7 separate regions of the Homo sapiens genome follow, and all the other regions are linked to region 1. Evidence: fine-mapped expression QTL. A gene starts in region 1. Each other region holds a variant in brackets. All regions are shown on one strand. Distances are from middle to middle.

Region 1 (4,000 bases):
AAACGCTTAATGAAATCTAAAAGGATACATGCTAACATGTCAACAGTGATTATTTCTAGTAATGGGATTGTGGGCCACTTACATTTCTTTCACTTTTGTATTTCCTGAAAAAGCGCAGTACACAGAGCATATCGATAATAAATCAGAAAAAAACCCAAAGGCGTTATACTTCATGCCTGGCCCAAATCCACCCCAAGGTAGAAGGCCCATCTCTGTCATTTTAGCTTTTGTTTGCGCTGCTGAAGCAGAGGAGCCTGCCAACTCCTTCATTTGCACAGCAAATATTTGTTGAACTCCTAAAAGCTAGGCCCTGCAAGGCGATTCCAATACCTTCAGCTTTTGAGTCTCCTGAAGTCCTCAATACTCGCTGAGGGAACCAGCTGGGAGAGGAGCTAAGCCAACACTTCTCATACCTTATGTGCATTATGACCACCAGGGGCTTCATAGAGCAGGTCCGGGTGGTATCTGAGACTGGGGGAGCAAGCAAGCTACTTGAGGTACACAAGATTTACTTCAGGTTTCTCAAAGGAACCGCCCAGGTCTTCAGTCACTTCTGCACCATGATGGTGTGCCCATTCTCTAACTCCCACATAGGCTCATTTTCAATTCCCAAATATTTAACAAAAGTCTGTGAGAGATGACAGAGGGGCACTGCTGGGGCAGCTGGAAGCTGTCTCAACTGCTTGCAGTTATGAGCACGGCCCTGCAGAAAGGCAGGCCTGGGTTTGAATCCATGCTTCACCATCCACCGGTGTGATTTACGTCCCCTCTCTAGGCCTTCACAGGGGAGGGTGGTCGTTGGATTACACGAGGGTATGAGGACATCTAAAGGGCTTGACAAGATCCTGGTACACGAAGAAGACTCAAACAGTGACCACCTCTAACTGCTGACAGGACTCCAGTCCTTTCTCAGCTATGAAGGACTGGCTGGGACTTCTGGGAAGATCACGTGAGTTTTCAGCCTCTATGCCCTCCAATGAAGAGAAGAACGCCCATGCCCTGCCTCCTTCCCAGGAATGTTCTGAGCCTAAACCAGGATGTGCACAGCACCATGCAAAAGACCTCTTTGGTCCTAAAATAGGTTATGGCACTCAGATTTTATTCAGTAAAATTTTCCTGACTCACCTCAATGTTACTACCAGGGAGATAATTAGGAAAAGAAAGAAGCCCTTTCCTCTTCCCCTGATCTTAGGAAGCTTTATTTTCAGGGAGGAGGCCATCCACGTGGAGATCAGGTGAGAAAGGCACCAGGTGTCTCTGACACTCAACACAAACTCAATAGCCACTAAGCCAAGCTTCCTGCTCCCAGGATCTGCCGCCGCCACCGAGAGGACCCAACAAGCTGAATTTCTCCCACAGCAAGACATCCTGAGGATCACAACCCTTTCTTCCCAGGACAGCCCGAGTTTCCTGGACCTTGTTTAGAGTCTTTCACTTTGGGAAGAAGGCGAGGCTGAGCAAAAACGGTTCCCTAAAGCCCGCGGGAAGATCTGAGCAGGCTCCATCCCGAGAAGCACGGCGGAAGCACGCGCCGGGGTCCAGCTGAGCCCCCCGCCACCCCCGGCCCGTCGGCACTCACGATCTCGGCCACGATGAGGAAGCCGGGCAGGGTGCGGAGGAACTCCCGGTCGTAGGCGAAGCTGCTGCTGCTGGTGGAGAAGTTCTCTGCGAAGGAGCTGGCGGTGGTGGTGACTGTGTGCGAGCGGGCGCGCTGCGGCTCCTCCATCGTCGAGCCACTGCCGGGCTGGCGCGTCCCCAGGGACCCCGGCGGGTCTGGGGCTGGACGCGCGGCCCTGCGCCCTGGGGACACAGGCGCGGGGGAGGGGAGCGCGGCCCGCGCGGGGCAGGAGGTGCGAGGGGGGCGCCCGCCGGGGGCTGTCCAGGCGCGGCGGGTGTCCCTCTAGTGCGCGGTGCCCCTAGCGCCTCGGTGCGCGGGCTCCCGAGCTGCGCTGGGGCCCTAGAGGAAGAGGAGAGCGAGCGAGGGGAGGCTGCCGGGCAGCCGGGGAAGGCGGTGGAGGCCCGGAGGAGGGGAGGGGGCGGGGAGAGGGGCGGGCGGGAGGCGGGCAGGAGAGGGACCGCCCCGCGGAGGCGCCGCGGACGCCCGCCCTCTTCACCTGTTGCCCGACTCCCAGCGGCGGAGAAGGCGCCGCGTCGCACCCAGGGTGGCTGGGTTGGCAGCCTGGCGGGCGGCGCGGAGGAGAGGGCGCAGGGGTCCTTCTGGCCGTCTTCCGCTCCCCCTCCCGGCCTTTACTTCTGTCAGGCCCCGCCTGGCCCAGGCCCGCAGCCTGTTTCCTTCCACCTGGGCGGGTCGGGGGCTGCGGGCATTGGGGCCCCTTAAGGAAACCCAGGCCTCCAGGGACTCCGCCGCTCCAGGACTCGGCGCGGAGGGAATGACTGAGCGACGACCGAGGCAGGGGGTGATGTGGTACCTCGAATGCTGTGGAAATGGCAGGAATGATGACCCGGCCGGACCTTAGACCCGAGATCGATGAGAGGCCGCCAGCACTGCCCGGGAGACGGCCCGCTCTTCTCCCCCTCCTGCTGCGGCCGCCGCCAGAGCCCGGTGTTATTTCCTGCCCCTCCTGTCGGGAACAATTTGAGGAACCAACTTAATCGCTTGGCTTTGAGGGCGCGACGCTTCCAGGCGCTCTCCGCGGCTCTGTCCCGCGGACCGGTGGAGCCTGGGTGACGGCGCCTGGGCCGGAGGAGGGGAGATGTTTGGGGTCCCTGGCCAGGATGAATCAGCGTAACCGTCCCGTCACCCTCGGGGAAAAAAAATGTTTCAAGAAGGCTTGAAGGGTGTGATTTGTGTAATGTTAACTTTAGGACAAATGAGCTGTGCTTTCCTGGCATGGGAAGGGGATGGGGGTCCTCATTTAGTGAGGCAGTTTGTAACAGGGTCAGGGAAGAACTGAGCTCGGCTGCGTGCGTTTATCGGCTGTATGACCCAGAGCGAGTGGCTCTAGTTTTTGGACCTCAGTAATGCCATCTCTAAAATGCAGGCTTTGACAGATGGACCTCTGAACAAAAAGATTATCTTCCGCTTGGTCCCTCCTTCTATTTTGTGAAAGGGTAGCAAGAAACATTTTATCTGGAAGCCACCAAAAGAAAAGGAAATAATCTTTGGCTATAAATCGAGGGTATCTTTGATTCACAGTGAAGGCATTTCTGCTGATCTGTTCCAAGACAGGTTAAAAACGAGATCAGAAGGGACATTTTCTTCACAGTGTCTTATCAAGTGTGCTGAGAAGAAAGCAAAAACGACAATCTAATAAAATAAAACAAGGAATTAGTGTCTTTTAAGTCTAGGGCCTAGCCAGGAAGACCTCCAGGAGTAAAAGTTAAGGCTTCAAAAGCATGGCAAAGATGTAGATTTGGAGAGATTCCATCCATGTGCATTTGGTAAGCACCTTGGGCTGGTGGGTAAATTCTTAAAATTTAAAATATAGCACTTCTCCCTGGAGCAGTAGTTCTCAAAGTGGTCCTTGGACCAACAGCAGGTAAGTTCCCTGGGAACTTATCAAAAATGCAAGGTCTCAAGCCCCACCCCCAGACCCTCTGAATCAGAAACTCTGAGGGTGGAGCCAGGAAGCTGTGTTTGAACAAGCCCTCCAAAAGACACTGATGCATGCTGAAGTTAGCTGCTGCTTTAGAGAAACTGTTAATGAGTTTGGGGAAATAAGAGATACATACATGAAATGGCTGGAGGAGACTCAAGCATTATGCATGACATTTAGTGAACGTAAAAGACGGAGTCTAGACAACTTTATTTCCATAATATTAACAAAGGACAATCCTCTCTTAAAATTCCTGGGGTCAGATGAATTTCTAAATTCAGATTTTGTTTTTCAATTTAGAAAGGTAAAATGTGCATGTACCATATATTACATAATACCTTTGGTAAGGTCTGGGGTGACACTCTAATATACTAATTTTCTGCAAGGGAAATCATGAATGACATAAGTGTATGCTTGGATTATCTACTGCAATGTAATAAATG
Region 2 (4,000 bases), 26 kb after region 1:
GAAGACACGAGGCAGAGGAAAACAAAGGAGGAGGTAAGTATCACCCAAGGCCTGGGAGTGTTCCACAAACAGCAATGATTTCAAAATTTTCTTATGGAACAGGATCTGCTACTCCAAAACCAAAGTTCGGAAAATGAAATCTCCCTTGCAGTCAACAAGTATTAAGATCTTTCAGTATTTATAGTGATATCACATGCTAAAAAGAAAACTATTTATAGTGCCTGACTTGCGTGTGGCTGTAGAATAATATGTTTTAATCTTGAAAACATAAAAATGATAGTTTATAGAATTATAATAACTAATCCTTTCTGAAAAGGTCTAGAATCCTTAGGGAAATGCATGTTAAGATTCAGTTTTAATATCATGTAGTTCACTTTTATTTAGTAGAGTAGAAGAAATAGTAGTTTTGATTCATAAATTTATTCCTCTGCTGAAATTATTCCCAAAACATAAATATCAGAACCAATGAAAAGGGAATAAGATTTCCCTCTGATAACAAAGGATATTTAGGAAAACTGTCACTGGATAATTTGAGTCTTACAGCTGTTTAAGGAAATGTCTACCGTGAGCACTTTTTACCACCAAATTGTGAAAGCAGTAAGAACTCATTGTCTAACAATAAAGAAATCCAAGAAATGAAAATTGCTTCTTTTCTGTTCTTCTCTCCAGAAGTAACAATAATTTTATTTATTTATTTATTTATTTATTTATTTATTTATTTATTTATTGAGATGGAGTCTTGCTCACTCGCCAGGCTGGAGTGCAGTGATGTGATCTCAGCTTACCAAAAACTCCACCTCCCGGATTCAAGTGATTATCCTGTCTCAGCCTCCCGAGTAGCTGGGATTACAGGCACCTGCCACCACGCCCAGCTAATTTTTGTATTTTTGGTAGAGACGGGGTTTCACCATGTTGGCCAGGCTGGTCTTGAACTCGTGACCTCAGGTGATCCACCCACCTCGGCCTCCCAAAGTGCTGGGATTACAGGCGTGAGCCACTGTGCCCAGGCAATAATTTTATGTTTTAATTTAAGCAAGATTAAAAAAGGTTTTTGGCCAGGCGTGGTGGCTCATGCCTGTATTCCCACCACTTTGGGAGGCCAAGGAGGCTTGAGGCCAGGAGTTTGAGACCAGCCTGGGCAACATAGTGAAATCCCATTTCTACAAAAAATAAAAAATTAGCTGGGCATGGCAATGTGTGCCTGTAATCCTAGCTACTTGGGAGGCTGAGGTAGGAGCATCACCTGAGCCCAGGAGACTACAGTGAGCCATGATTGGACCACTGCACTCCAGCTTGGGTGACGAAGTGAGACACTGTCTAAAAAAAAACAAAACAAAACAAGAAAAAAACCCAAAACAATCCAGGCATGGTGGCTTATGCCTGTAATCCCAGCACTTTGGGAGGCGAAGATAGGCGGATGGCTTGAGCCTAGGAGTTCGAGGGCAGCCCTGGGCAATATGGCGAAACTCTATCTCTATCAAAAATAAAAATAAAATAAGCTGGATGTGGTGGCATGTACCTGTAATCCCAACTACTTGGGAGGCTGAGGTGGGAGGATCGCTTGAGCCTGGAAGGTCGAGGCTGCAGTGACTCTAGCTGGGGTGATAGAGAGAGACCCTGTCTCAAAAAAAAAATTTTTTTTAAGTTAGTATGCTTTGTACACACACACACACAGACACACACACACACACACACACACA[A/CACACACAA]ACACATGCATACATCAATGCAAAGATACTTTTTCTGGAGGTCAGTGTCACTTTACTTGTTAATGGAGTATAAATCAGTTACCAGTTATAATCCTAAAATCCAATGATCCAAAAGAGCCTTTCTTTATTTTTAATTTTAAAGAAAAGAAATTGCAAACACAGTACAAAGAGGTGCTTGGAACCCTGAAGCCAGCTTCCCCCGATGGTTACATCTGGTATAACCATAGTATACTATCCAAGCCAGGAAAGTTTTTTTTTTTTTTTCTCACTTCTTTTTGAAACATCAAGTCATCATTTTGGGAAAATCCTGCTGTAAATATGACAAGAGACACTTTGAATTCTTTATACCCACATAAAATTTTTCTACAAGGTTTCTATATAGTAGAAGGACCTATTAACAACTTTAATTAGTGAAAGTAACAAGATATCAGGTCACAGGCCTGGGTAGATGTCAACAACATAACATGTAATGGGCTTTGACGGACAATATTGTTTTAAATTCTACACCTTCCTAGTTTGAATAAACTGAATTTAGAGTAAAAAATGGTATTGATGGCCCAAACACATTTATACTTAGTGGTAATGAGACTGAAAATAAATTTTTCTTAAAGTACTAGGTACTTCATAGTACATCATATATACTTTGGAGCATTGCTCCAAACAGCAATCAGCAGCATCTGTAACAATCATAAGAACGATGGCATCAGTATATTTTAGTTGGAACTTAAAAACTTGCCTTCAAGGCCTCACCCACATTAGTTCCTCAAAAGCTGTGTGTTTTATTTTGGCACCTTCATTTGATACCTCATTCCCTTCACTCTTGAGGTTGCATTTAGCAAAATCAAAGAATGCAAATAACACAGTAATAAGAGTATTCCCAAAATGCAGTTTCATCATTATTAAGCAGGTGGTTTGGGGCTTGGCAAACATAATGACAGTGTATTTCATAAGCTAGAACTATGAAGCAGAGCACAATAGCAAGTCAAAAGAATCTGTAAGATAAAAAAATAATTTATTTAATTAAGAAATACTTACTGAAGGTCACCCGGTGGGCAGCACAGTCCTGGGCACTGGGTATACAATGCTAGATTAGACTTTTTCCCCCAACAGTTTGACATCTCAAAAGTAGAGAGGTAGCTAATGGTGTCTTAAAAACACTATTGGGCCAGGCGTGGTGGCTTACACCTGTAATCCCAGCACTTTGGGAGGCCGAGGCGGGTGGATCCCAAGGTCAGGAGTTTGAGACCAGCCTGGCCAAAATGGTGAAATCCCGTCTCTACTAAAAATACAAAAATGTAACTGGGCATGGTGGCACACGCCTATAATCCCAACTACTCCGGAGGCTGAGGCAGGAGAATCACTTGAACCTGGGAGGCAGAAGTTGCAATGAGCCGAGACCACACCACTGCACTCCAGCCTGGGGCACAGAGTGAGACTCCATCTCAAAAAAAAAAAAAAAAAAAAAATTTAAAGCACTGTCGTCCAGATAGTAGTTGTCACTGCCTACACGTTTGTGAATTTAGTTATAATTCCTTTAATGTTTTGGTCAGACTTAGTCCATTTTGTATGCTATAACAGAATACATAAGACTGGGTAATTTATAATGAACAGAAGTTTAGGCCCAGCATGGTGGCCCATCCCTGTAATCTCAGCACTTTGGGAGGCCAAGGCAGGTGGATCACTTGAGGTTAGGAAATCGAGACCAGCCTGGACAACATGGCAAAACCCCGTCTCTACTAAAAATATAAAAATTAGCTCAGCGTGGTGGCGGGCACCTGTAATCCCAGCTACTCAGGAAGCTGAGGCAGGAGAATCACTTCAACCTGGGAGGAGGAGGCTGCAGTGAGCTGAGATCATGCCCCTACACTCCAGCCTGGGCAACAGAGGGAGACTCCATTTCAAAAACTAAATAAAATGAAAAATAAAAAGTTTATCATTTCTTGGTTCTGGAAGCTGGGAAGTTCAAAATCAAGGGGCCAGCATCTAGCGAGGGCCTTCTTGCTGCATCATCTCATGGTGGAAGGGCAAATAGAAGGTGAGAAGGAGAGAGTGGATAGAACTCATAGCCTCAAGCCCTTTTAGAATTGGCTTTAATCCATTCTTGAGAGCAGAGTCCTCATGACCTAAGCACTTCACATTAGGCCTCACCTCCCAATACTGTTGCATTGGGGATTACGTTTTCAACACATATTTTTTGGGAAGACACACTCAAATTATATCAGTCAACAAATCATTTAAAAAGCATTTAAAGAAGGAATGTGAGTCCTGGTTATTGTCTAAAACCCATCTATTGACCCAGA
Region 3 (4,000 bases), 70 kb before region 1:
CACAATTCTTTATACTTGTATAACCTGAAAATGCAAACCAATCCTATAAAACAAGTCAGAGTATTTCCTAGTTTATTTAGACATTCAGAGTTGCACCTGGCACCACTCAAAAGCATGAGCCCATAGCTGACCATAAGGATAATCCTGGCAGAGAAATTCTCAGGTTCCTGGGAGGAAATGGCACACACGATTGCTGTGTTGAGCCTCGCAGTATGATTTCTTCCTCGCGCTGCAGGAAAATAACCCTAGGAGAAAGTAGTAAACAGCTATTTTTAAGTCCGGCCTAGTTTACTTGAACTCATTTCTTCCTTTGGCACCCCTCATTGGCAAGGACAAGGCCTCCCATTAAGATGTTATTTACTGGATGGGAGATCTCTAAAGCATCTCCAGACAGTGTATCTACAGCTCAGGTATATTTTTTTCTTGGAGCAAAAACACAGCTGAACTGTAAATTTAAGCTGAAGCCTGACAGTGCCAGCAAAATCCCTTTGCTCTAGAATTCTGCCACGCTGGAATCTGATGGGATTCCTTTGGAGAGCCATCTCCCAAATTTGTCCCTACAGTTGAGTACCTAATTTCAAAGCCACACTTTAGCCTTGATAAATTCGATTTACAGAAAAAAAAAACCACAATTTTAAAAATCATCCACAGCCCCACTACTCCTTTCTACACATGAGAACAGTAAAAATCAGAATGGATGGATCTCCTGTGTTCACTTAGTCTCATTTTGAGATGTCCTTAATTTGCTTCCTCTTTTCTAAAAACTGAGCTGTGAAAATAAAGACTGGCTGTGAGAACCTCAAATGGTCCTGCAGAAAGCAGGGCTGACCAGGCAAGGTTGAGGGTGACTGAACTCAGTCATCTGATGCCTGGGGGCAGTGAACAGACATTCCCATCGAAAGTTCAGGATGCCCGCAGTACGAGAGGGCCTCCCTGCATAAAGCTCCCATCCCCTACTGTGACTTAGGAAATCATAAACCCCAAGAGCACAGACAGGGCTAACACAGGGTATGAACATCTGTTCTGGACTTCTGATGAACCACAGGCTCAATCAGAATAGCCAAGTTACTGAAAGCATGACCGACTTTGAGGAAAAGTGAGACACCTAGGTTCTATAAGTCTGGAACACTACATGGACACAAGAGTCCAGCACGGGGGCATAAGAAAAAAAATTGGTTGGCCAGGTATGGTGGCTCATGCCTGCAATCACAGCATTTGGGAAGCCGAGGCAGGTGCATCACCTGAGGTCAGGACATCGAGACCAGCCTGGCCAAGACGGCAAAACACTGTCTCTACTAAAAATACAAAAATTAGCCGGGCGTGGTGGTGCACACCTGTAATCCCAGCTACTCAGGAGGCTGAGACATGAGAATCACTTGAACCCGGGAGGTGGAGGTTGCAGTGAGCTGAGATTGTACCACTGCACTCCAGCCTGGGCGACAGGGCAAGACTCTGTCTCGAAAAAAAAAAAAAAAAAAAAAAAATTGGTAAATTGGTTGAGAGCTCAGCCATGCTTGAGCCCTTCCAAGTTTAAACCCAAATCAGCTGGTCTTCCCACAGCACCAAGTCTAGAAAGG[C/T]CCAGGCAATGCTCTGCCCCACCACCCTCCACCCATTTCTGTGAACCAGCAGTGAGTGTGTTAAGGATGCTTGTCTGGAGATGAGCAACTTGGTACACATGCGTACATATGACCCAGACTCAGCACTCCCCAGGACACCCAGTTCTCACTAAGAAACATCCAATGACCTTTCAAACCTCCTGATTCTCCCAACCTCATAGTGCCATAACCTCAAGGACGATGGGTGTCTGAAGACAGGGGCCAATCCCTTTTGGTCATGGTTGATACAGAGCTGCCACGATGACTTTCCAGCATAGGAAGGAGCATCTCTAATGGTAGGGCTGCTGTGACCCCAAATTCTGAGTTTTGAACCTTAGGTTCCTAGAGATGTTACCACCTTATTTTCATGTGACAGTTGCACCATAGGATCTAATGGATAATATATATTAAAGTTCACTAAGCGTCATTGTGTCTATTAACTCATATTAAAATACATTAAGAGCAGATTATGTCTATTTTGAGTACCTCATACATAACTTGCAGTGTTCTAAGGGCTTTCCATGTATTCTTATTTAATCCTCATCATGATTCTGAGGTAGGTACCATAATTAGTCCCATTTTACAGATGGAGAAACTGAGACACAGAGAGGTGAAGTCATGCTGAACTCATGAACGATGATAGAGCCCCGATCTCCTCATGCCAGTGCCCTTTCCAACTCTAGTGCACTCTCCACTGTCCCATCCAAGTAGCTAAGTTCTGGAGAAGAAACTGCGGGCTGGAAATGCTTAGCTGTGTGCTCAAGAGCTCTCCTGCAAATCTGTTTTCTTTTAAGCATAACCATGCAGACATATGGAGGGGGACTTCACATAATTGTTTTTCTCTATAAAGACAACTCAATATATTTTTCTGTAGCTTGATTTTTTATTTCTTCACAATATATCACTAGCATCCCTCACACTGTGGACATGAATCTGCTTCTGTGTTTTCTGATGCTGTGGAAAGCAGGACCATTTAGTCTGAATGTCTCCGCCTCCCTGTGCTAAATTAGAGACATGGAGTCGGTAGAGTGCGAAGGAGGTGTGACTCTTTCATCCTGAAAGGATGCTTAAGTCTCTTATGATAACAATTAAATGGTAAGGAAAAATCCTCAACACCCTGTGGTGTCTTCTATTTTCTGCTCTCTTCTCCTTTTGAATTGAGCCGCTTAAAGGAATGGTCTTAACTGGGTATCTCAGTATTCTCTTGGCTTCTCAGAGCCTAAACTCTCTTAAATGCCTTTGCTGACTTATTTCCCTTTGCCCACTCCTTGAACATGGCCTGCCAGGGCCTTCTCCATTTGTACTTTTGCCCCAGACTGGCTCTCAAAGTGTGGTCCCAGACCAGCAACATCAACGTCACCTGGAAGCTTGTTAGAATGCAAATTCTATGGCTCCACTCCAGATCTACTGACTCAGGAACTCTGGGGGTGGGGCCTGGGGAGCTCCGATTTAACAACCTTCCAGGTGATTCTGATGCAGCTAAAGTTTGAGAACCATTGCCTTAGACAAACCCACCCCTAGCAGTCACCTCCTCCCATTGACTGGAAATTCCCACATCTTCATCTTTAACCTCGACTTCTCTTCAAGCTACATACCTACACATGCAAGTATGCTCTCTGGCCATCTCTGCCTTGCCACTCCACAGTCTCCTATACTGAATGCTGCCCAAAAAGGACTTACTTATCATCTCCCCGAGGATCTGTTCTTTCTCCCTCATTCCCAGCAACTCATGCCAACACCATCTCCCCACCTACCCAAGACAGAAACCAGGAAGTCATCCTAGACTCCTGCTTTTCCCTCATCCAGTCAGCCACCAGGTCAGGTTGATTCTACCTTCTCTTTTTTTTTAAGATGGAGTTTCGCTCTTGTCGGTCAGGCTGGAGTGCAGTGGTGCGATCTCAGCTCACTGAAAACCTCTACCTTCCGGTTTCAAGTGATTCTCTTGCCTCAGCCTCCCGAGTAGCTGGGATTACAGGCATCCACAACCATGCCCAGCTAATTTTTGTATTTTTAGTAGAGACGGGATTTCACCATGTTGGCCAGGCTGGTCTCAAACTCCTGTCCTCATGATCCACCTACCTCGGCCTCCCAAAGTGCTGGGATTACAGGCATCCACAACCATGCCCAGCTAATTTTTGTATTTTTAGTAGAGACGGGATTTCACCATGTTGGCCAGGCTGGTCTCAAACTCCTGTCCTCGTGATCCACCTACCTCGGCCTCCCAAAGTGTTGGGATTACAGGCGTGAGACACTGTGCCTGGCATCTTCTCTCCATTTTTATGACCTTAATTCAGATTCTCAGCTGGCCTAAGTCAGCTTCCAATGAGGCACCCAAGGACCTAATGTAGTACCCGTCTCTTCCAACCCTCACACTATTGCCAAGATAATCCCTCTAAAACATGAGT
Region 4 (4,000 bases), 48 kb after region 1:
TAAGGAACATCAGTTTAAGGGAATGCCAAATTATTAGCTTGCCCAAGATGTCTGCATCTCATATTCTGGTCCTAGAGGATTACCTGATTTTAAGAGACCTGTAAGTCAGGTGAGAGGATGTAGTTGGAAGAAAAACACAGTTTCTCTACTAACCATTTAGCCTACAGACCACATAGGACACATTCAGAGAATCAGGTCTGAGGAGGCCTCGGCCCACCCAACAAGAAAGCGGAAATGACCACAAAAAGGCCAACTTTTCTCCTGTTTTTTTTCCTTTGTTTGAGACTCTTACTTCTGACTGTTGGGAAAAGCTGAGTGGTGGTTTCACTTGGCTGAGACCTTATTAGGGAATTAAGGTGCCAGAGGAACGGAGACACTTTGTGGGTGGACAGGTTGGCATGGTGCTGACAAGGGGTCCTGTGTGTCCCAGGGCATACCAGCCCCTGGCTCATCTGAATGCCCTCTCAGTGGTGAGGAGTTGAGTGGCCATCTGAGGTGGTTGATGGTGACAGGTCCACAGCCTGGGAGTGGAGAGGGCTGGGTTCTCACTGGGTTCTGGGAAGGGAGACCACACCATCACCATTTATCATCCAAACTGTGGCACTTTGAAAAAGCACTAAATACTTCTATGTGTAGTTCCTAAACCTAAGGACATTCTACATTGATAGCAGTGCCGTTATCTAATCTACAGTCTTCAGATTTCACACGGCCTGCTGATGTACTTTTTTTCCATTCAGGATATAATCTTGTACCATGTGTTGCATTTAGTTGTCGTTTCTCTTTAGTGTCCTTTAATCTAGAATGGTTCCTTGGTCTTTCTTGTCTCTCATGACCTTGATATGTTTTGTGGCTCAACTGTTGTGTGGAATGTCCCTCAGTTGGGGTTTGTCTGATATTTCTTAGTGATTAGATTCAGTTTATATATTTCTGGCAACAATATCACAAAAGTGCTGTTGTGTCCCTCTTGGCACATTTTTTTTTTTTTTTTTTGAGACAGAGTCTTACTCTGTTGCCCAGGCTAGAGTGCAGCGGCGCGATCCTTGCTCACTGCAAACTCCACCTCCCGGGTTCAAGCAATTCTCCTGCTTCAACCTCCTGAGTAGCTGGGATTACAGGCGCACGCCACCACGGCCAGCTAATTTTGTATTTTTAGTAAAGATGGGGTTTTACCATGTTAGCCAGGCTGGTCTTGAACTCCCGACCTCATGTGATCTGCCTGCCTTGGCCCCCCAAAGTGCTGGGATTACAGACGTGAGCCACTGTTCCTGCCCCTTCTCAGCACAAATTTTTTCTTTCTCTCTTTTTTTTTTTTTAGAAACTGATGTTTATTTTCCATCAGCCTTATTTCCATGTTGCTTAAGAGCCTGTGCAAGAACAGCTTAAGACCATTCAGTGGTTGCTCCTACCCATTCAGTGGCCTGAGCAGTGGGAGCTGTAGACCAGTCTTCCGTGGCATGCTGAGAGCTCTAGTCTTCAGTAGGGATCTGCTGGATAGGCACAGAGGGCACCTGCACACCTTCAGACCAGTCTGCAACCTCAGGCTGAGTAGCAGTGAACTCAGGAGCTGGAGCAGTCCATTCGCCCTGAAGTTCCTTCTTGGTCACAGCCTTTTCAGCAGCAGCCTGCTCTTCTTTTTCAATCTCTTCAGGATCTCTGTAGAAGCAGAGATCAGGCATGACCTCCTATGGGTGTTCACGGGAAATGGTGCCACGCATGCGCAGAACTTCCCGAGCCAGCATCCACCACATCAGACCCACTGAGTGAGCTCCCTTGTTGTTGCATGGGATGGCAATGTCCACATAGCACAGAGGAGAATCTGTGTTACAGAGCAATGGTAGGTAGGTTAACATAAGATGTCTCCGGGAGAGGCTGGTGGTCAGCTCTGGGGTCAGTAAACACAAGAAGCCATGGCTCCCGGAAAGCTGCCTGGATCTGATTGGTGAAGGTTCCAGGGGTGAAGCGGTCAGCAATTGGAGTGGTTCCAGCAGCAGCAAACTTCAGCACAGCCCTCTGGCCAGTATTCCTGGAGGATATGACACTGACATCAGCAGGGTTTTCAATGGCAACAATGGCACGAGCTGCCAGCAGAAGCTTCTCCCAGGTCCTCTTCAGATTTAGGATGTAGATGCCATCACTTCCTTTTATAGACGTACTGTTCCATCTGG[A/G]AGTCAAGATTAGTGCCACCTAAGTGGGTTCCTGCTGCAAGGAACTTAAGGACATCCTCCTCCTTCATTTGTAGGACATCAAGGGCTCCGGACATTGTGAAAGTTTCCGTTTAAGTTACGACTGGAATCCAGAACAATGCTGTATGCACCCCTCTGTGGGTAGCGTGGAAAGTTCTGAGCAAATCTTAACAGGAGGCACATGATGTTCATTGGTACCATCTGTGAAGATATTAATCTTCATTACTGGATTAAGCATCTGCCAGATTTCTCTACTGCAAAGTTACTATTTTTTTCCTTCATAATTCCAACAATTTTTTAGGGAAATACTTTGAAAGCATGCATATATCAAACATGTATTTTGAGAGGAAAAAAGGGTGCTACTGATACTCAAACTGTGACAACAGAAGCAAACATATTATCCTGGGGAAACTAGGACATATGGTCATCCCAGTTCTGAATGACTTTTGTTATTTCCTGCTGTAATGTCCAGGTTGCTCCCAGCCACATTTTAAGGGTCACATTCATGGCGAAACCATTGCTGAACCCCCTCCTCTTTGCCTCCATTTCACCCTGTGAGATGACCATCATAGATTGTTATGTCTCTCTGACTTCCTGTCTCTTTCTGTCTCAGACTGACAGCTCCTTGAAGGCAAGAACCTTGTCATATCTTTATCTCCTAGGGCCTTACATGGGGCTAGTAAGGGAGAAGCATTTCCTAAAAGTTTGAATTCATACTGACCTCTGAACATTGGTTTTCTCATCTTTTGCAAAGAGGGATAATGAACTTTGCTGAATTGCCTCTAAGGATCAACTGTGATGAGATTTTACAAGTGAAAGCACTTTATAACCTACAAAGTGCCAGAGGACTCTGAGGCACCACTGTTTGTTTGGAGCCAAGAACGACTCCAACACCAGTGAGCACTGCTGGGTCTCCTCTCACACTCGGCAGGTGGCCACCCAGACTCTGATCTGAAATCAGCTTGTTCACTCCTTCATCCTGTGGCTGCCTTGTTGGTCTTAGTAGTTTCAGGGCTGAGCACAGAACACAGCCAGGGGTACTCGATAAGTGTTTTGAAAGAATACCCCCATGAATGAATGCATCTAGCCCCTTCCCCTCCTCTTAGTGTCCAAACCTCCCAAAAGAAATTTAAGAACTAGCACTGTACCTGACACAGTATTGTGTAAGCATTCAAGATGAATGCTATGTAGAGAATTACAGCAAGTAAAGAGATTGAATTAGCAAACAAATAACTACTCACAAAGAAAGCCCCAGACTCAGATGGCTTCACTCGGTGAATTCTATCAAACATTTGAAAAAGAATGAATACCAATTTTTTCACAAACTCTTTCAAAAAATAGAAGAGGAGGGAACATTTCCCAACTCATTCTATGATGCCAGTATTATCCCTGATACCAGAGACAACTCAATAAAAGAAAACTCCAGATCAATGTCCCTTATAAATGTAGTCAAAAACCTTTAACAAAATACCAGTGAAATAGAAGAGTTACACACCCTGACCAAGTGGGACTTATCCCAGGAATACAAGGTTGGCAATATTTGAAAATAAATCATGTAATATACCACATGAATGGAAAAAAGGAAAAAAGCCACATGGTCATCTCAGTAGACACAGGAAAAGCATTTGATAAAATTGAACATACTTTCATGACAAAAACACTCCACTAACCAGGACTAGAAGGGAACTTCTTAAACCTGATAAAGGGCATCTACAAAAAGAAAACCGATAGGTAATATCATATATAATGGTGGAAGACAAATACTTTTTTCCTAAAATCAGGAATAAGATAAGAGTGTCTGTGCTCATCACTTCTAC
Region 5 (4,000 bases), 64 kb before region 1:
AAGCTGAAAGAATTCTGCCTCATTTATCTTGTGTGTGCCACCAGGGCAAACACCAGGCATTTTAATAACCTCATCTGGACCTTCGGTAATCATTGCAGGCTACTAACTCCAGACAAATATTTGCCTTGGAGGTTTCTCTATGGAGAGACAGAAGTAAACTAAGCTTCTTTTGTTCATATAGATTGAGTATGACAATCTAGAAAATACAGAGCACTCACATCATTCATTTCTTGTAACTATACAAATAAAGGAGCAATGGAATTGATTCTACAAAGATCTGCTGGAATACATTTCCTTTATACTTTTCCTTTCCCCCATGCCATCTCCAACAACAAATCAAAGTACAGCTGAGAAGAACATCAGTGGATGTTACAATCAGAGAGGCCAAGGCTGTTGGGGGAAAATTCATTCTCCTTGTCTCAGAATAGGACACCCATTTTCAGCCCCCTGCCAACACCCAAACTTTTACATGAGAATAGGGTCCCTTTTATAAGACCTGGCAGATGCTACTGTAACTAAGTGACCAAACTTAGCAACACTGATTTTGGTACAACCAATTATCATGCGATCACAACCAGATACATGCCAGCACCACCTGGGCTGTATTCTTACCCAAATGGTCTAACAGGCTGAGGATTTTTCTAGATTAAAGGTGACTAAAGAAACATGGCAACTAAAAGAAATCTGTCGATCCTTGACTGGATCCTCAAACAAAAGGCTGAAGTAAAGGACATTCTTGGGACAAAGTAGAAAATTTGAATATGGACTGCATCACATATTAGTGAATTGATGCTAAATTCCTTGAGTGTGATGAAGGTATTACAATTAATTTAAATAATTTAATAGTTATTTAATGATTTTTGGTAAATACATACTGAAATACCTAGGGAATAAATGTCAGGCCTGCAACTTCCCAGTGGTTTAACAACAACCACAACAAAAATAAGATCACACACATTCACACAGCGAGAGAAACCAGATGTAAAAAAATGTGAGCTGGCAAATGTAAGTGAGGAGTCTACAAAATTTAAGCGAAGGAGTCTATATTGTTCTACTTTCCTGCAGATTTGAAATTTTTCAAAATTACAGTTGGGAGGGGGAGGGGGGAAGCTCGGTTACCATCAATGTGTAAACAAGCCAGAATGTTTCAGAAATGAAACATACGGGAAGAAAGTATGAGAACCAAACAGTATTTCCTGCCTCAAATTTGAAGATAAGCGACCCAATTTACTTTTAAGTGTTTGGAGGCATAAGATAAAAACAAAAACGAAACACCTGAATCTAAACCAACACATTTGACCCTGTCACCACATTAAGAACGAGCTGAACTCAGACATTTTGATGCATCAGAGTTCTCAAAAATACTAGAAATATCTCACTGATATGATAATGGCCTTGAAGATTTATGCAGATACGAAATGAATTCCAAGCAAAGCATTAAAGTAATCTTCATAACTTGTTAACACAACTGCTCTCAAGAGAATGTTGAGAAATCTTGCCAGGAAAGGCCTACAGTTCCCAGCAAGCAGTAACTATCAGCAACTTAAGAAGACAAAGATCTTTTTTAAAAACCTTACTTATTTGCAACCTACATTTGTTTTGGATCCTAGACGCCTGCAATTTGGACACTCAATTTAGAGTTTATGTAATAGTGATCAAAAAGGATTTGCTGGAAGGGAGAAAGCTGTGCAATCGGGCATGTGATTGTAAGAGCTGGGGGTCAAAGAGACGAAATTGGTTTAATAAAACAAAATGGGGCCACCTGGGTATTTAAGTGTGAGACCAGGTCTCTCTCCAAAGACAACAAAGTTCTACATCTAATGCCCCAGGGTTCCTTTGTTCAAATTCAGCCAATCTCTTCATGCCATGGGTCTTAAAAGATCCTGAAGTTACAGACTTCAGGTACTTGGTGTGTATGCGCACAGGTACTTCATACACTTCGTGTGTGTGCGCACAGGTTTCCAAGGAGAGGGACCTTAGCTTTCTTCTTTTCTCAACAGATCCCTCACCTCCTCAAATAGGTGAAAAACCCATGCCTTGTGAAATTTGCTCCAATTTCTTCTCTGGGCTTGAAAAACCCAGGGAAATCCTAGCACTCACAAGTCCACTTCTAAATTCAAAAGGGCCTCTGATTCCTTCTCTTCTACTTCCATCTGTCTCACCACTGTTCCAGCTTTGTCAGGGGGCCAATCGCCTTTTGGGAGCCTTGTTTCATCTAATCCTCCCTTAGGCAAGGAAATCTTTGCTCTCAGACTTAAAACTAACTTTGAACTGGAAAGTGACCTAAGATGTCGGGAACAACCATAAACTGAACAGCATACAGAGGCAGAAAATTGCATTTTGTACTTTTCTATCCAATGCTGTGCTACTTGTTCC[A/G]ATAAAGAATTAACTTCAAGGTAGTTATTTTGTGGGGGTATTTTGTTTTGTTTCTGAGACAAGGTCTTTGTCACCCAGGCTAGAGTGCAGTGGTGCAATCATAGCTCACGGCATCTCCAATTCCTGGGCTCAAGCAGTCCTCCCACCTTAGCCCCCACCTCCAAGTAGTTATGACACGTGCCACATTTCAGCTAATTAAATTTTTTTTTTTTTGTAGAGACAGGAATTGCCCATGTTGGTCTCCTGCCTTGGCCCCCCAAAGCGTTGGGATTACAGGCATGAGCCACCATGTCTGGCCTATGCTATTCTTATTAAGAAAAAAAAAAAAGTCAGCAATCAGTGATCACTCTTAATTCCACCGAAAGGAATTTGGGTCTATTCTATTTTTGTTGCAAAAATTTTAGCACCAGAAAGAATATTAATGACTATGAATTCAAGCTTTTCATTTGACATATGCAAAAACAAAAGTACTGTGATTTACCCAATGTCACATGGCTGGTTAGCCAGACTCGAAATGGAAACCTCTTGACACTCAGTCCAATGTTCTCTGACATCACCTGCCTTTTCACACCAATGCCCTCTGAAAAATACTATTTTTCTTTCTTTTTTTTTTTTTGTTTCATATCAATGATAAGAACTGCTGGATGGAAACCAAAATCATTCATGGAAAACTGTATGAGATTTCAGGAATCCCCAGTGCAATGTCACCGATGCCGGGATGAGTCATACTGCAGCTTGATCAAGTCCAGGTAGACAGAGGACCCCTCCCAAGGGCTGTGTCTCCCCTATCCCTCTTCATCCACCACTCTCCCTTGACCACTTTCTGCACCACTGGCAGGAGGGAAAGATAAGGTGGAATCCTTTTGCCCATATATTGAATGATTATTTAATTGCCCTGTTTCTAGTTTTAAAAACAACAGGATAGAAATTTATATATTGTTATTTAAAATGTCTTATGTTGCTTTATATATATATATACAGCTGTCAAAGTATAATTTTTTTTTGAAAAGGTCAGCTCTTGACTCATATAGAGTATGCATATGCTAAAGATTCTGTAACTTGATGAGTTTGTCAACTTAAGCAGAATGACAAAGCTGGCTCAAAGGTGGATGGCACAGAAACCTAAGTAGGGCAAAAAATCTGTGGAAAGATGAATGCCGGGATAAGGCTGGAAACTTAGAAACAAACCGGGTTAATGTCCTACCTGGCATATAGCAGTACCCCTGATGCTCCTTTTCTGCCATAAGAAATCCTTCCCATCTTAACTGGACAAAAATCATTTGCAATTTATTAATCTCAGCCATTTGTTTTTATAAGACCTGCAAGTGAAGGATGATTTTTATATTTTTAAATGGTTGAAAAAAATTAAAAGATTTTTTTTTTTTTTTGAGATGGAGTTTCACTCTTGTTGCCCAGGCTAGAATGCAATGGCAAAATCTCGGCTCACCACAACCTCCGCCTCCCAGGTTCAAGCAATTCTCCTGCCTCAGCCTCCCAAGTAAATGGGATTACAGGCATGTGCCACCACGCCCAGCTAATTTTTTGTATTTTTAGTAGAGATGGGGTTTCTCCATGTTGGTCAGGCTGGTCTTGAACTCCCGACCTCAGGTGATCCACCCACCTC
Region 6 (4,000 bases), 37 kb before region 1:
TCCTTTGAGTTTGGACAACACAACACAGTTCCCGCAAACTCTCATCACCCTCAAATGCAGTCCCACTCCCTGGAGAATAAGCCAGATGTGGTGGCACACACCTGTAATACCAGCTACTTGGGAGGTTGAGGCAGGAGGATCACCTGAGCCCAGGAGTTTGAGTCTAGCCTGGGTAACATAGTGAGACTCTGTCTCAACAAAAAAAGAAAAAAAAAAGGAAAATAAAAAAAGAAAGAAAGACAAAGGGAGAATCCTTGGAAAATGGACAGACAAAACCTCTAAGTCAGCAGCAGCAACCACCGTGGGGCCTTACTTGCCCACAGCCTCACCATGTAGGGCCTCCCTGGACACCAGTAGCCTTTATCAGGATTAAACTCTGTTCCTTTCTCTTCTCCCTTTCTCTCCTTTTCAAGACTAAATAATTTCTCAGGGCTGGGAGTGTTGGAGCATACCTGTAGCTCCAGCTACGTGGAAGGCTGAGGTGGGAGGATTACTTGAGCCCAGGAGCTCAAGACTGGCCTGGGCAACATGGTGAGACCCCAATCTCTACAAAAAAAATAGTAACTTAGCCGGGGATGGTGGGATGTGCCTGTAGTCCCAGCTTATTGGGAGGTCGAGGCAAGAGGATTCCTTGAGCCAAGTTCAAGGATGCAGGGCACTATGATTGTGCCGCTGCACTCTAGCCTGGGTGACAGAGTGAGACCCCATCTCAAAAAAAAAAAATTTCTCAGGAGACAGGGCTAGATATTAGAATCATGAAGCAAGAAAACAGCAGGTGAAAAAGGCATCCCTCAGTTTGATATGGAAGGTCTGGCAGCCTCACCAAACAAGTTCATCCAGACAAACAGCTTCATGAAGGAGGAGTGGGAGGTGGCATAAAGGAAGACACAGAAGGTGCAACATCCAAAGCTCATTTTGTGGGAACCATTGACGACACGGGTTACAAGAAAACAACCAAAGTGGCATCAGCATTGCCTGGGGCCCCAGCTAATACTCCCCTCCAAAGAACAAAGATCTTGTGTGGCGCAATTTCAGCTGAGCCCAGCTTTCTCCTCTGGATTCAGATAAAGCACCCATGCAAAGGTCCATGGCTAGCCACAGGCAATTACTCTAATTGCCAGCCAAGCAGTGCCAGCATGAAGGTATTTCTCATACAAGTTCAAACCACTTGCTATCCTCTCAAGTCAAAATAAACATCAAGGAAATATCCACGGCATTGCTGTTGCACAATGAGAATAAAAACAATCATGTTACAGGAAAAGAAGTTCCTGTTTATAAGGCCCACTGCCCTCTAGGGAGCTGCTTCTGGTTTGGTGAGAAGTCTTTTCTCTGCACCCCCTCACTGAATTAAGATACACAGTTTGGAGGTAGGAGCTGGAGAGAGTTTCCCTGAACAACAGAAGGAGAAGGATTTGGAGAGGAGGAGGACGAGTAACCCAGGAGGGAAGGGAGACAAAACAGAAGGGGAGAAGAATGGAATAGGAGGTCGGTCTGCATTCTCTAAAAGCCTCTGTACCCGTCATTGGTCAACATCTAAAACCAACCCACCACTGGGACCAGTGAGCTTCTTACGGACACCAGAGATGGATGACAGCAAAGGATAAAGGAGGTGGGTGAGATGGCAGAAAAGGGCAAGAGAATACGGGCTCTTTGGGAATTAACTGAAGTACATACGAGTGGTAACTCACACCTGTGATCCCAGACTTTGGGAGGCTGAGTCAGGCAGATCACTTGAGGCCAGGAGTTTAAGACCAGCCTGGCCAACATAGCGAAACCCCATCTCTCCTAAAAATACAAAAATTAGCCAGGCATGGTGATGCACACCTGTAATCCCAGTTACTCTGGAGGCTGAGGCGTGAGAATTGCTTGAGCCCTGGAGGTGGAGGTTGCAGTGAGCTGTGGTCACACTATCACACTCCAGCCTGGGTGACACAGCAAGACTCTGTCCCCAAAAAAAAAAAAAAAAAAAAAA[G/AG]GAAGTACATGGGGGGCCTTTGTGCTCCTCACACAGATTCTGAGCGATTTCACCAATACCTTTGAGGGACAGAGCGGCCCCCATGCCATTTGGATACTATCATCTCCCCCAGAACAAGGGTTATGAGTTCTTACAATGCGCCAGTGCTAAACAATTTACATGAATTTGCATTTGATTCTTTCAATAATCTTAAGAAGTGGGTATTATTAGACATATTTTACAGATGCTTTAACATGTTAAATATTTCACTTAAGATCACAGAGCTAATAGCAGCAGGGCCAAGACTCAAAGCCAAGTCTGTTTGTCTCCAAATTCTGTGTCATTCTGCTCAGAAAAAGATCACATTTAGCTTGCAGAAAAGCAGCACTTTGGGAGGCCAAGATGGGTAGACTGCTTGAGCTCAGGAGTTCGAGACCAGCCTGAGTAACATGGCAAAACCCTGTCTCCACAAAAAAAAAAACCAAACACCCAAGTTAGCCAGGTGTGGTGGTGCACACCTGTAGTCCCAGCTACTTGGGAGGCTGAGGTGGGAGGACTGCTTGAGCCTTGGGAGGTTGAGGCTGCAGTGAGCCATGATTGCACCACTGCATTCAAGCCAGGGCGACTGAGTGAGACTCTGTCTTTTAAAAAAGAAAAGTGATTATAGTTTTATTCACTAATCACAATATACACTGACATCCCAAGCCCCTTGATGTATGGTACTAAGAAGGACAAACATCACTTCAGTGGGATTTCTGCCAACAACACATAACCTGAATCTACTCATGAGGAAACACCACACACACATAATTTGCAGAGCATTCCCCAAACAGCTCACTTGGATTCTTCAAAATTGTCAAGGTCATGAAAGACAAAGACTGAGTATTCTAGACTAAAGGACACTAAAGAAGACATGATGACTATATGTAATATGTGATCTTGTGCTCTATCTTGGACAGGGAAAAAGAATATAAGGAACATTATTAGGACAATTTGGTAAAATTTGAGAATGATAGTTACACTGTGGTTATGCAGGAGAATACTTTTGTCCTTTAGAGATGCATGCTGGAATAGCTAGGGTATTTAGGAGTGTGATGTCTGCAACCTACTCTCAATTGGTTCCATAAAATATGAAGCAGACAGACAGGAAGGAGGAAGGATGAAGCAGGATATTTACATTTCAGAAATTACAGTGAAAGTATGAGGAAGGTCACTATACTGTCCTTACAACTTTTCTTAGCGCCTTGAACTTTTTTAAAATAAAAAATTAAAGGAATTCTGACTTCAATTTCTAGCACTGTGACAGACTGGGTATCCTCCCAAATGAAACAAGTATGGGTAAAACATGAAATTTTTTTTTTTTTTTGAGACAGGGTCACCCAGGCTGGAGTGCAGTGGCATGATCACTACTCACTGCAGCCTTAACCTCCTGGGCTCAAGCAATCCTCCCACTTCAGCTTCCCAAGTAGCTGGGACCGCAGGCATGCACCACCATGCCTGGCTAATTTCTGTAATTTTTGTAGAGACCGGGTCTTGCCATGTTGCCCAGGCTGGTCTCAAACTCCTAGGCTCAAGTGATTCGCCTATCTCAGCCTCCCAAAGTGTTGGGATTACAGATGTGAGCCACCGTGCCCAGCTAAAACATTTTTAAACATGTTGCTGAGCTGGCATGAAAAGAAAATATCCCAAGAAGCCAAAAATTAAATAAAACAAGAATCCTGGGAGTCATCAAATGCCAAAACCAGTTTCCACCCTGAGAGTTTGTTAAACCTTGAGGACTCTTAAGCTTCCAGCTTTTTTTAAAACCACTTCAAGATATAATGCATACATCATAAAATTCACCGTTTAAAGTGTAGAATTCAGTAATTTTTAGACTATTCAAAGAGGTATGTAACTACCACAACTATCCGATTTCAGAACATTTTTATCATCCCCAAAAGAAACTCCATATCTATCAGCAATAGCTCTCCATTCCTCCCTCTCCCAGCACGCACTAACGCACTCACCTACTTGCTGTTTCTATGCATGTGCCTATTCTGGACATTTCCC
Region 7 (4,000 bases), 120 kb after region 1:
AAAAAATCTTTATTACAGCCCATAAGAGAGGTGCACATTATCCCCATTTTACAGATGATGAAATTGAGGCCCAAAGAGCATAAATGAATTGCCTAAGTCATGCTGTCCATCTACGGTTAGCAATTCAAACCCAGATCTGAGTGTCTCCAAAGCCTGCACTTGCTGCTAATTCATATTTGCCCTATTGTAGTGTAGAGTCTTTTATTGAAAATATTTATTGAGCACCCATTAATTTCAGACACCATGCTGGGTGCAAGGGACACAAGGGAATGAACGCAGACAAGTCCCCATCCTCATGGAGCTTGGAGACTGGTAAACAGAGACTGACGCTGTTTCAACAAGCACAGAAAAAAATGTAACTGTGCTGCTGCGCACGGTGGCTCACGCCTGTAATCCCAGCACTTTGGGAGGCCAAGGCGGGCAGATCACGAGGTCAGGAGTTCAAGACCAGCCTGACCAACATGGTAAAACACCGTCTCTGCTAAAAATACAAAAATTAGCCGGGCGTGGTGGCGCGTGCCTGTAATCCCAGCTCCTCAGGAGGCTGAGGACAGAGACTCACTTGAAACTGGGAGGCAGAGGTTGCGGTGAGCTGAAATCACACCACTGCACTCCAGCCTCGGCAAAAGAGCAAAACTCTGCCTAAAAAAAATATATATATATATAGAAATATATATATATAGAAATATATATATAGAAATATATATATAGAAATATATGTAGAAATATATATATAAATATATATATAGAAATATACACATAGAAATATATATAGAAATATATATATTATATATATAGAAATATATATAATATATATAGAAATATATATAGAAATATATATATAGAAATATATATATAGAAATATATACATAGAAATATATATATAGAAATATATACATAGAAATATATATAGAGAGAAATATATATAGAGAGAAATATATATAGAGAGAAATATATATAGAGAGAAATATATATAGAGAGAAATATATATATAAAGAAAGCCTAGCCAGGGCGGAGCTCTGAGGCTTAGTGGGCCTTACCCGGGGAGGAGGCTGGGTACCTTCCCGGCAGCAGTAAGGCCCCTGGGGCAAAGCTCACTCATAGCAGGTGGCATGGCCAACAATAGGCACAGATTTTATCTAGAACCAACACATCCAGAGAGGAGAGAAAAGAAGGAAGAGGAGACAGGTTAAGGGAAGGAGAGAAGAGGAGACAGTGCAAGAGAAATGGAAAGGATCAGGGAGACTAAGGGAGGAGAAAAAGAGGAGGGAGGGAAGGTGGAGAAAATGGCGTGGCAGGGGCAAGAGGCAAGGAAGGGACGGGGTGGGCAAAAACAGCACTAATTTGGTGCGTACCAGGTGTCAGGCACTGTTTCAAATACCTTACCCACAGTATCCCTTTTAACCCTTCTGCTCTACGGCCCTGAGTCCCAGCTGGATGGACACCCGCCTGCAGGAGGTCCTAACCCCCAGCTTGGCAATGCCCTCCCCGCCTCCAGCCCCAGCTAACCCTTTGCCATTCACTCTGTCCACAGCCTTCTCACCCCTTTCTCTCTAAAAAGGTGTAGTATTTAATTAGGCTGGGGAGGTACTACTTCAGCCAAGGAATGGACGCCTGTTTTTAAATAAAAATAAAAATTTCAGAACCCTCTAAATTTATTATGCCAAGGGGGAAGTTAGGGCTTGGAGACTGGGTTATGTATAACTTGCATGCTTGCAATTCTGCTTCACTCTCTTCCCCACTGTTCTTGACTTCCTCATTGTAAATGACTAGGAGAGACCAGATCTTCCCGCTTCTAATTGCTGATCTTTGTTGTACATTAACTGCCTCCTTCATTGTCCTGTACCTAACTCGCACCAGATAGCGTCAGTCCAAGACCCAATGATGGTTACATCTGCTGTGTGGAATGTTAAATATACCTCCCCCACCACTCAGAAAGACCACCTTGACTAATCAGATCATTGTAACTATGCATTAAGCCTTACATAGAAACATGCTGAAATCCT[A/G]TTAAATTTCCCTGAACTTTTTCTATATGAACACTGTCAAATTTCTTGGAATCTGTTCTTTCTGGGCAGGCTCACTTGTTTTTGTTTGTTTGTTTGTTTTTTGTTTTTTTTGAGACAGAGTCTCACTCTGTCGCCAGGCTGGAGTACAGTGGTGCGATCTTGACTCACTGCAACCTCCGTCTCCTGGGTTCAAGCGATTCTCCTGCCTCAGGCTCCCCAGTAGCTGGGACTACAGGCACGCGCCACCACACCCAACTAAATTTTGTATTTTTAGTAGAGACAGGGTTTCACCATGTTGGCTGGCATGGTCTTGATCTCTTTGTGATCCGCCTGCCTCGGCCTCCCAAAGTGCTGGGATTACAGTTGTGAGCCACTGTGTCCGGCCGGCAGGCTCACTTTTAACCTTCGCACTTAATTAAACTCTCTTTAAACTAGATTCTGACCTTTTTGATTATTTTAGGTTGACACTATCAAGTTGGGCCTAAAAACCTGATGAATTTCTTTGAGGCCAGAAAGGACCCTACAGTCCATCCTTCTTTTTACTATGGAGGAAGCGGAGGTCCAGGAAGAATACACCATCAGCTAGATTCTCCACATTCCATGCCCCCATCTCTTCCAGAGCTGACCCGGGCTGGTTCCATGGGCAAAAGCGTGGTCCTTTGTGGTTTAAATAACATGTACTTTTTCACTCATAAGAGCAATACATGAAAAAAATTATGAATAATCTCACCACCCAGGGAGAACCACTATTAACATTTTGCGTAATTCTTTGCAGTCAAAGGGCTTTTAAAGAACAACCAAATGCCAGAGTATTAGATGCAAATGTTAAAAATGAAGTATTTTAAAAATAGATTCAACTTGGCGAATGTTATTTGATCTCTACATAGGGAAGCTTTCTAAGCTTAAAATCAAAGAAAGAAACCACAAAGGAAAAAAGATCAATATGAACAACTTCACTTCAAAGAGGAAGGAGACTGAAAAGGCTTTCTATCAAAATTCAAACTGTAGGGGAAAATGCTTATGATAGAATGTTACATTTAACAAAAAGGATGTAAAATTGTACATACCATATGATTGCAAGTGTGCAATTAATAAATAATACCACCTCAGATCCACTTAGATGGCTACTATCAAAAACACAGAAAATAATAAGTGTTGGTAAGGATGCAGAGAAATCAGGACCCTTGTATACTGTTTGTAGATTTGTAAAATACTGCAGCCACTGTGGAAAACCAAATGGCAGTCCCTCAAAGAATTAAAAATAGAACTAACATATGATCAAGCAATTCTGTTTCTGGGTATATACCCCAAAGAATTGAAAGCAGGGTCTCAAAGAGGTATTTGTACACCCATGTTCATAGCAACACTATTCACAATTGCCAAAAGGTGGAAGCAACCCAAGTGTCCATCAACTGATGTATGGATAAGCAAAAGGTGGTCTACACATGCAATGGGATATTATCCAGCCTTAAAAAGGAAATTCTGACATACGTTACAACATGGATGAACCTTGAAGACATTATGCTAACTGAAATAAGCCAGACACAGAAGGATAAATAATGTATAATTCTACTTATATGAGGTACTTAGAGTAGTCAAATTCATAGAGACAGAAAGTAGAAGCGTGGTTTCCAGGGACTGGGGAAAGAGTGGATTGAGGAACTGTCGTTTAATGAATATAGAGTTTCAGATTTGCAAGATGAAAAGAATTCTGGAGATCTAATTCTTTTCAATATTTTCATTGTTTTCAATACGAACAATGTGAACATTCTTAACCCTACTAAACCGTATGCTTAAAAATGGTTAAGGTGGTAAATTTTATGTTATGTGTATTTTGTCACAATTAAAAAAACATACACACTTAAAAAGGATGGCAAGAAAACACACAAGAACAAGCATAAGACCCAGCCTATGGTCAGATCCTATTAAAAGTGCAGTTCGTGGACCAGCAGTGAATATATCCCTGAGAGCGTGTTAGAAATGCTGAACCTCAG

What was found. PIP is the estimated chance that this variant, and not a neighbour inherited with it, causes the effect. A credible set is the group of variants that fine-mapping cannot tell apart.
Region 2: its variant is the best candidate, but not a certain one, in a credible set for the expression of CMTM8 in whole blood (INTERVAL, PIP 0.80).
Region 3: its variant is the best candidate, but not a certain one, in a credible set for the expression of CMTM8 in whole blood (TOPMed, PIP 0.56).
Region 4: its variant is the best candidate, but not a certain one, in a credible set for the expression of CMTM8 in lung (GTEx, PIP 0.76).
Region 5: its variant is the best candidate, but not a certain one, in a credible set for the expression of CMTM8 in whole blood (GTEx, PIP 0.56).
Region 6: its variant is the best candidate, but not a certain one, in a credible set for the expression of CMTM8 in monocytes (Fairfax 2014, PIP 0.71).
Region 7: its variant is the best candidate, but not a certain one, in a credible set for the expression of CMTM8 in whole blood (TOPMed, PIP 0.59).

The regions. Positions count from the first base shown.
Region 1 is chr3:32,236,699-32,240,698 of GRCh38, reverse strand. CMTM8 (CKLF like MARVEL transmembrane domain containing 8) reads right to left here and starts at 2,019. Exons shown (of 4, transcript NM_178868.5): 1 at 1,580-2,019. The coding sequence starts at 1,726. RefSeq lists a silencer at 2,006-2,215.
Region 2 is chr3:32,211,031-32,215,030 of GRCh38, reverse strand. No RefSeq gene overlaps it. Among named protein-coding and RNA genes, the nearest start is that of CMTM8, 26 kb to the left of the region's middle. The variant A/CACACACAA (reference allele first, on the strand shown) is at 1,701.
Region 3 is chr3:32,306,785-32,310,784 of GRCh38, reverse strand. All of the region lies in intron 1 of CMTM8 (CKLF like MARVEL transmembrane domain containing 8), which reads right to left. Among named protein-coding and RNA genes, the nearest start is that of CMTM8, 70 kb to the right of the region's middle. The variant C/T (reference allele first, on the strand shown) is at 1,578.
Region 4 is chr3:32,189,007-32,193,006 of GRCh38, reverse strand. It overlaps the pseudogene RPSAP11. Among named protein-coding and RNA genes, the nearest start is that of CMTM8, 48 kb to the left of the region's middle. The variant A/G (reference allele first, on the strand shown) is at 2,166.
Region 5 is chr3:32,300,725-32,304,724 of GRCh38, reverse strand. All of the region lies in intron 1 of CMTM8 (CKLF like MARVEL transmembrane domain containing 8), which reads right to left. Among named protein-coding and RNA genes, the nearest start is that of CMTM8, 64 kb to the right of the region's middle. The variant A/G (reference allele first, on the strand shown) is at 2,377.
Region 6 is chr3:32,273,617-32,277,616 of GRCh38, reverse strand. The region is part of intron 1 of CMTM8 (CKLF like MARVEL transmembrane domain containing 8); the gene reads right to left. Among named protein-coding and RNA genes, the nearest start is that of CMTM8, 37 kb to the right of the region's middle. The variant G/AG (reference allele first, on the strand shown) is at 1,973.
Region 7 is chr3:32,118,434-32,122,433 of GRCh38, reverse strand. All of the region lies in intron 1 of GPD1L (glycerol-3-phosphate dehydrogenase 1 like), which reads right to left. Among named protein-coding and RNA genes, the nearest start is that of GPD1L, 14 kb to the right of the region's middle. The variant A/G (reference allele first, on the strand shown) is at 2,007.